2 separate regions of the Homo sapiens genome follow, and region 2 is linked to region 1. The links come from fine-mapping of genetic effects on gene expression. A gene starts in region 1. The other region holds a variant in brackets. All regions are shown on one strand. Distances are from middle to middle. Region 1 holds the start of PIRAT1 (PU.1 (SPI1) induced regulator of S100A8 and S100A9 alarmin transcription 1). Region 2 overlaps PIRAT1 (PU.1 (SPI1) induced regulator of S100A8 and S100A9 alarmin transcription 1).

Region 1 (4,391 bases):
CAAAACAAAGAGCTGGTGGAAAAAAAACGCAAAAATTTTCATCGTAATGAAGGATTGAAATTAAAAATTTGGAACCGTCATGTGATTAAGCAGAACGTGTATATGATCCACACACTTTTATTTGGAACTCTAGGGAAAACCTCCTGAGCTATTTGTAAAATTTCATTCTCAGGATTAAAACAAAATATAGTAAAATTTGATTATCCAGACAAAAGATGGATTTATATTTCTCTATTAGACAGATTTTATTTCTGCACCTTAATTTTAGCAAGGGATGAATATTAAGACAACTATGAATTTAGTTGACAAAAAACTCACATATATCTGACTTCCAGAGTCCTGAAGGTGGTATAGAGGAGTATGGTAGTCAAGATAAAAACAAAACAAATTATTATATGACCTTTGAGTATATCACTTAATGTCTCAGGACAGAAGTTTTCTCATTTGTAAAACTGAAATATTTCTTGCCTAATTCACATGGCAGTTGCAAGGATCAAATACAGTAAAGTAGTATAAACACCTTGAGAATTGTCATGTTCTTTCCAAATATGCTTTTTTTCATCTTTACCATACAATCAACCCAACCACCTATAGGTAAAATCATAACACAAGGAAAATTGGAATTCAGAATAAAATACTTGAGCATTAAATTTCCTCATTGGTCCAAAAGCACTTTAATAGGCTTTGGTGAATTAGATTCGTGCAAGAAAAGGGACTAATGTATTTTCAACCATCAAAGGAGTGTTTAGCTTAATAATCAGCTACCCAGAAAATGAAACAGAAAAACACTTGAATCCAAAGCACCGAAGTGAACTGAAGCGGCCTCCACTGTCCTCCCCTAACTGTCCGCACGGCCTGTCCTCTGTAGGAGTGTCCTTGTGTACGTGTGGAGGTTGTGGACACACATGCCTAGGGTTACAGATGCTCTACAGACTTAACTCAGTATAGTGAAGCTGCAGAGATAGTCATAGCCCTAAAGAAGCCTATCTGAGAGCTTTCCTTTGGGTTTTACAAGAGGCATAGATATTTATTCTGCTCTTCTTTTAACAAAAGACTCCCAAATATTTGCTGAAGATGTAGAGTATTGCCATTTCTGCTTCAAAAGCTCTGAGCCTCTCACGGCACCTGTTGCTGCTGCCCCAAGAGCGGAACACACCCTCCACACCAGCAGCCCCAGGACTAGATTCAGCTTCTCAGTGAACCACTTCCATGCTCCACGATGTGCTCTGGGCTTTGGGGACTTAAAACATCGCAGCCGCGGCATAACAGAGATGCGTCAGCTTCTAAAGTCGTAGTGGGCAGTTCTAGAAACCTGACCCTTTCTTCTGCTGCTACAGATTCTATTGGCTTCTGGAGATTCAGAGACGTCCTTCCTCAAGAAGGAACCTCTGCCTGGCCTTCAGCAGGGCCACTGTCATGTGCGATATTCACTTAGAGCCTTATCACATTTGTGGCTGTAGAGGTGTTTGCGTGCCTTGTTTAATTTATCCCACTAGACTGTAAGTTCAGGGCAGATGGGGGATGTCTGGTTTTTGTTTTTTTTTTTTTTGCCTAATACTGTGTCCCCATGCTGGGCACAGACCTAGCACAGAGTAGGTGCTTGGCAAAGAGCTTTTGAATGAATGAATGATTGGCTGTAGTCTTCCTGGGAAAGGGCTGGCAGGCAAGGAAGTGTTAAACCAGCCACTAACCGCCCAGGCTGACCAGCCTTCTCCCTATCTCCCAGGCCTTTCGAACGGAGCCCGGGGAGGACAGGCTGGCAGAGGAGGGAGGAGGGTTTCTAGCTGAGAGAGACTGCGGCTGTGGGCCTGCAGCCTACCCCTCTTCAAGCTCTCCGGAGCCGTTCCTGCGAAACCAGCCCCCACAAGTGAGTGTCTGCGGCCCCCTCCCTCCTCTTTCCCTTATTGCTCCCTGTGGGGATGGGGCTGACACCGAGCTTGATCCTAAGTAAAAGTCTGTTCTAACAGGAAGCAAATAATGTTCCTCCCCTGACGGAGGTGTTTCCTTCTCAAAGAAGTTACAAAGGGCTCTTTTCAGAGAGAAAGGGGCTGGGAATAGTGTGTGGCCTCACTGCCGTCTGCCTTGGGTGGAGCCAGCACGTTCTGGAATCCAGGGGCTTCCTCTTCTAAAGAGGCGCCGGGCCATGCACTGAAACGGGGTGGCCCATCCTCTGGGAGCCCCAGTCCCCTTACCTGCTTGATACAAGCATCCTCTGGAAGTGCCTAGGGTCATTGCCAAGGCCCCTGTTTTCTTTTCTTGGCTTCCAGGACGCCGTAGTCTGTGTTCTTCCTCCCGCCCTGCAGTTCCCTAGCTGGATTCTCTTCCTCGCTGTGATCTCTTCATCCCTGGTTCCCCAGCGCTCTGTCCTGAGCCCCCTTCTCGAACCACACTCTCGTCTGAGTGAGCATATTGAGCTTCATGGCTGTACATTTCCTCCCCGTGCCGAGGAATCCCACACACTTAGTTCCAGCGCCCAGCTCGCCCCCACCTCATCCAGGTCCTTACATCCCCCTGCAGACTCTGTCTCCACTCCACCTCATTGGTGTTTCCCACTCACTAGATCTAAAGCCAAACTCTTGATCCTGACTTCTCCACCCACCAGCTTGCCTTTCTCTTCATCTTCCCCATCTCAGAGAGCGGCTCGGTCCCGAACTGTCTCTTTCCTTCACACCCTTCATCTAACACACAGCAAGGCTTCTCAGCTCTACCTTCAAAATCTACTCCTCATCTTTCTTCTTCCCACCACCGCCACTCAAACGCCCTCGGCCTAGAGGGATCAGACCCATACTACCTGGCTCCTGAACCTCTGCAAGAGTCTCTGATCTTTCTGCTTCCACTCCTGTCTTGCTACAGACTATTCTTCTGACAGCAGCCGGGGTGATCTTTTCAACTACCAGACCGTGTCACCTTGCTTAAAACCAGCTGGGGCTTCCCTCACACGCAGCATGACACTCAAACTCCACACGACAATCTAACCAGCCTCACCAACTGTGGCCCTGGCTTGTCCTTCTGACTTAGCTTCTGTCTCAGCTCAGGCTACACTGGCCTTCTTGGTATTCCTCAGCCCCCCAGCTTGTCACTGCCCAGCCTTTGCACTGTGTCCTCTCTCTGGAGTTCTTTCCCTCAGGTCTTCAGGTGGCCTTGCTCTCGGGCTTTCTGGAGAGACTTAAAAGCCATATCCATGGAGAGGCTGAGTTTGGCCACCTACCTAAGGTAGCCTCTCATCACTCTCCATGCCTTCGTCTGGCTTTCCTTTTGATTGAGCACTTGTTACTACTTGTGTTCAGCTCTTAGATGAGGGCACAAGGAACTCTGGCGGGTTTAAGTAGAAGAAGGATTTATGTGTAGACTTTGACAGCTCCAGGAATGTTTGGGAAGGCTTAGTGGTTTATAGCCAAGAAGAGTGCACGCATTGCACGAATTGGTGGGATCTCTGCTGCCCCAGCTGCCACTGGTTATGTCACCAATGCTACCGTCCCAGATACTAACACTGCTGGAACCCGCTGTCACCAGCACCCTTGGAATCCCCATCTTTCTGCAGCTGCTGCCATCTCCTATGAGGGCTTTCTCAGTCTCTTTGTCCTTGAGTCATTGGTTCCTAACTCAAATTGTGGGCCAGTGTGTCTGGCTGGTGGAGCCTTGGCCACAGGCCTTGGCTCCTTCTACAAGAGAGGCTGATAAAACCACTATCAGGCATTTTCAAATTCTATGTAATGGACCATGGGCTCTGCTTATCCACCAGATTCCATGAGGTAGGGAATCTCAAACATAGGATGGAGGTTCAGATTCTGGGTAACCAAAAAACAACGATAAGCATGCCCTTGACTAGCTGGCTTTCTAGTATATATTTACGTGTTTATGTGTCTATTGCCTAGCTACTACATTAGAATGAAAGCTAGATGAGGTCAGGCACTTTGTCTTTTTCCCTCTGTATTCCGAGAGTTCAGAACAGTGGCTGCACAGAAGTGACCCTTGATAACTACTGAATGAATATCAGATACTGTATTGAAGGTGTCAGCAATTAGAAAGATTAAACAGTCTCATTGTTGCTACCATTCCTTCTTTAGGTGGCTGATGCTCCTGTCCCTCTTCTGGCCTGATTGCTCCCTCTCCTGACCCCTAAGGTAAAAGCCAGCCAACTTGGGAGATATAGTTTGCCGGTAAAAGAGACAAGCAGACAGGGTCAGGTGCTCCATGCCAGGAAAGGAAGCCAGTTAGTGACAAAGGAGAATCCCAGGGGACTTCAGGGAGGGAAGACATGGCTACCGAAGGGCACAGGGCCAGGGCATGTGCAAATTATATTGTTGAGACAGTGAGAATGCCCTACCTTGCCTGCCACTTCTTTGAGGAGAAGAGAGTAGAGTCGCAGGAATGAAGGCTCCTTTTAACCA
Region 2 (4,391 bases), 48 kb after region 1:
ACCTCCTGGGCTTAGGTGATCCTCCCACCCTAGCCTCCCATGTAGCTGGGACTAGAGGTATGTGCCACCTCACCTCCTTTTTTTCTTTTCTTTTTCTTTTTTGGAGAGACAGATTCTTCTTATGTTGCTATTTTAAACTCCTGAACTCAAGTGATCCTCCTGCCTTGGCCTCCCAAAGTGCTGGGATTACAGGTGTGAGACACTGCACCCTGCCCAAGGTAATATTTTGACCTTCCTTTACCTTATTCTTTGTCCATCTCTTAATTAGTTTATAACTTAGACGGGAAAAAAGAGGTGTCTAAATAAATAAATAAATAAATTTATTTAAATAAATATTAAATAAATCCCATCAGTTCCCCATAGAATGCCATTTTCCCCTAGCTGTCTATTCATGTAACAAAACGAACAAGAAAACACTACAAATTCTCTCCCTATTTATACTGTCCCACCATTATGTTATAACTCTCATTATAATGTTTTAGTTTTTCCTTGAAATAATAATCATCAACCCATTTGTAAACCATATGTTTCTACCCACAAGTGACAACCAGAATTTCAGGATTAATTGCAAGAGCCATAAAGAGCTTTTTGGTCATTTCCCTAAGAGCCTCCATGAATAGTAACAAGGGCGAATAGTAACCCCCGGCTTCAGCTGTCCCCACTGCTGTGGCAGGTTATGATACTTTCTTTCCTAAAGTAAAGGCCAAGACAGATGGCTTTTCAGGACTTCCAGAGTCTGTATGACATAAGAAGCTTATTCCAGTAAAGGGAACAAGACCCTTGTCATCTGACACCAATGAGATGCTCTTCCCTTGGCTGGCAGGGATCTGGAGGAGGAGGAGCAGATAACCTTCAGCCTAAATAAGCAATACCATCATTATTCTGGAATCTCTCTGAAGTATGGTTGGTTACAGTGTGGAATTCCACAGGGCACGTGCCTGTCTTGGACTCTATCCAAGGGAGTAAGTTATCACAAGGACCTCATTATAACAGGGGCTCCAGGGACAGTGTCAGTCAGCAGGCTTCAAGGTAGCTGCTAAAATTCTGGTGCTGGTCTGTTTAATCACTGCATGCTTGTTAATACAGTCAAGCCTCAGTTACAACAGAATCAACAGCCCAGTTTGTCACTCATCCATTCCTTGTTCCGTCACCGCCTGGTTGAGTTTCTGGCTTGTTTATGGGGCAACTCTGGGTGTCGGGCAAAATGAATGCCTCTTGTTTGAAATGCCTAATCCCGAGGTTTTTCACCTATGTGTTGTTTTCTCCCACCAGCACCTCTGCTCCGTGCCATGCTCTTGGCTAATTGGAGTTGTGAAAGGCATGAGGATTCTGGTCATGGACTCAGCTCTCCCATAGGGTTCTGACACCAAAGCAATGGTCACAACAGTGAAAGGAAGAATCCATCTGGCCAGGCTCAGGTGGTTCAAGGCCTTCAGAATCTGCCTTGAGACTCTCACTGGCTTTAGACTGAAAACCATCTTGGCCCCGTCCATCCGTGTAAGCAATTTAACGACAGCTTGCAAAGCACCGAGCTTTAACAGAAAGAAGAGATGAGCACAGCGCAAGAACTTGGACTCCAGAAGAGCTGCCTAACAGATTATTTTTCTGTGGCATTTCATGAGAACAAACGAAGTAGGAATTTTCCTTTTGTTTGTCTGGCCTTTGGCATCGTTTACTTTCTTTTTATTCTTCTGAAATGTACTTCGAGCCCTGGCAGCATTTCTGTCCTAAAATCTTATTGTCAGAGGTTTATTTTTCAGCTTTTCAAATCATATCTGATAGAGTGAGTGTACTGCCTGGACTCATCACTTTACTTCAGAAGAAATACAGCTCACCCTTTAAATGACAATGGTGACTGTCCACATCTTTATGTTTTCTACACTGAAGTGGCAGGCTTCATTTAAAAATAATGTTTTCCCTCATCAAAAGAGAGCTAGGGTAGAACC[G/C]TCAACTCTGCTGTTGTCTGGGTAGTGACCTAACACCCACGTTTTGGACAATCACTCACTGTCTTATATTGGGTTTTCATTGCATGTAGGATAATTCTTTGTCAATGGTAGTTTTGTCAACCGTGATCTGAGGTAATGAGGTTTTCTACTTTTGCTTGAAATTTTGAAAATATGCAAGCTTTAAACATTTGCAAAGTTGGATTCTGTTTTCTTTAGAAAGCAATCTGATTTGCTGATATTCTCTCCATCTGTCAGGGGATGCGTGATGTGGTGTAGACTTAATGTGCTGCCTTTCTGGAACATGGACAGAGTAGCAGCACAGAAAAATGAGCATTTCAGCTCTGTGATGATTTGTGAAAAAAAATCTCAGATCATTGAGCAGGCATTTTGCTGACACCTGTGAAAAGTAACCACATGAGAGAGCATGGCGTGATGGTCGGAGGCCACGTGCTGGAGCTGGACTGCTTGAGTCAAATCCCAGCTGCTCAGCTGTAGTGAACTGAATGGTGGTCCCCAAAAGATACATGTATCTCCTAATCCCTGGAACCTGTGAATGTGACCTTATTAGGCAAAAGGGTCTTTGCAGATGTAATTACATTGAGGCTCTCAGAGATGAGAACATCCTGGATTATCAGGGTGGGTCCTATATCCAATGACAAGTGTCTCCTTATAGGAGACAGAAGAAGTTGCAGACCCGGAAGAGACTAAGTAAAGATGGAGGCAGAGACTGGAGTGAGGCTGCTGCAGGCCAAAAATGCCTGGTGCCAGCAAAAGCTGGAAGAGGCAAGGAAGGACCTTTCCCTGGGGCTTTTGGAGGGAGTGCAGCCCTGCTGATGCCTTAGTGTTGGATATCTGGGCTATGGAACTATGAGAGAGAAACTTCTGTTGTTTTAAGCCACCTAGTTTGTGGTACTCTGTTATGGCAGCCACAGGAAACTAATACACTCTTTACCACCTGAGTGACCTTGGCCAACTTACTTAACCTCCATGAATCAGTCCCCTCAAAGGACCACCCTCCCCCCAGGGTCACTGTGATGATAAAGTGCTTTAGCATAGGTGACTGGTTTAGACCAGGGCCTGGTACCTAGCACATGCTATGCCAGTGTTTCTATCATGGCAGCAGCAGATGCAGTGGAGCTTAGATTTCAACTGTGTCCATGCTGGTTAGAAAAGTCACAGTCTGGGACACAGGACACTTCTGGAAGAATCTCCCTCAGTGGATCCCAGTGTTCCAGCAATGTTTTCCAAGCAGCTGAAGAACAGGAAGCAGGAACAGGGTTCCCTACAAGAGCCATTATTCAGATGCCTCTACATCTGACTGGTTTCGGAGAAGTGTGACTTCTGGAGGTTTATGTGCTGGGACTTTAACAGCATACGTACTAAAAACCACATTTATGTTTCCTCAAATGCTGGGCTCTCTATGAGCCTTGACCTGCCTGAGAAGATTAGAGGCGGCTGCCTAATCTGATCAGTCAACTCAGTGAAACAACTGCATTGATTAAAGCCATAAGATGTTAGGATTCTCTGTTCTTGGTGGCCTAAAAGGTCCCATTCCTTTCCCAAAGTGCTTAGCTTGATCCCATCCCAGGGAACAATTTTGGGTGGAGGAGAACCTGGCCACAGATCATAAGATCATGTATGACTAAGTCTACTTGCCTTCATGGAAACATACATGGAGTTTTGGGCAATTTCTTTGAAGCCCCTCTAGAGGCTTCTAAAGATTGTTTAGTGCCATCTGGTTTTTAATCCTGGATGTCAAACTTGTTGATTTTTGCCCTGGACCATCTGTTTTTCAACTTCCCACGGAACCTTTCCTTTGGGCCAAGTAGGGAAAGAAATACTATATTTTTAATTCTTTTTGTTTTGCCTTCTCATCCCAGTCACAGCATTAGAAAGGGAAAATCGACTGTCTGACAAAGCTCTGAAAGACTGGACATGAAGTGCTGGCCTTGCTATCTGCAGGGCATCTCCCTATAGATTGGATACCTTTTCCTTCACTCTCTGATAAAAAGTGAGACAGACTGAGCATAGTCCTGTGACCATTTAATGCCTGTGCCCAGAACATGGGTCTGTACCACTTGCAGGAGTCACAGTGGGGAGGAGCAGGGACCTTGGGGTCTGCCTGCCTCTGTCTGAATTCCAGCTGAGCCCATTCCTAGGCCAGTGCCTGGGAAAGTTATCTGACCTCTGAGATCCAGTCTACTAGCCTCACAAGTGAGACTGTGACAACACTTACCTCAATGAGGCACTGGACATCATCTCATTTAATCCTCAACATGCCTCAGTGTCCAGCATTTAACAAGCTCCCATAAACATTAGTTACTCTCATTCCTTAATATGAATAGCATTTAAAATAATAAAGTGGGAGAGAGCAATGCTGCATGCCCTACAACTGGCCAGAGAGCTTGCAGCAAGGAGAATGCTTAGGTGGAACATACAGGCCTT

The links. PIP is the estimated chance that this variant, and not a neighbour inherited with it, causes the effect.
Region 2: its variant is fine-mapped to the expression of PIRAT1 in whole blood (TOPMed, PIP above 0.99).

Annotation. Positions count from the first base shown.
Region 1 is chr2:37,873,219-37,877,609 of GRCh38, reverse strand. PIRAT1 (PU.1 (SPI1) induced regulator of S100A8 and S100A9 alarmin transcription 1) reads left to right here and starts at 1,747. Exons shown (of 4, transcript NR_110012.1): 1 at 1,747-1,867.
Region 2 is chr2:37,824,760-37,829,150 of GRCh38, reverse strand. It overlaps PIRAT1 (PU.1 (SPI1) induced regulator of S100A8 and S100A9 alarmin transcription 1), which reads left to right. Exons shown (of 4, transcript NR_110012.1): 3 at 113-218; 4 at 1,273-2,904. Among named protein-coding and RNA genes, the nearest start is that of PIRAT1, 49 kb to the left of the region's middle. The variant G/C (reference allele first, on the strand shown) is at 1,947.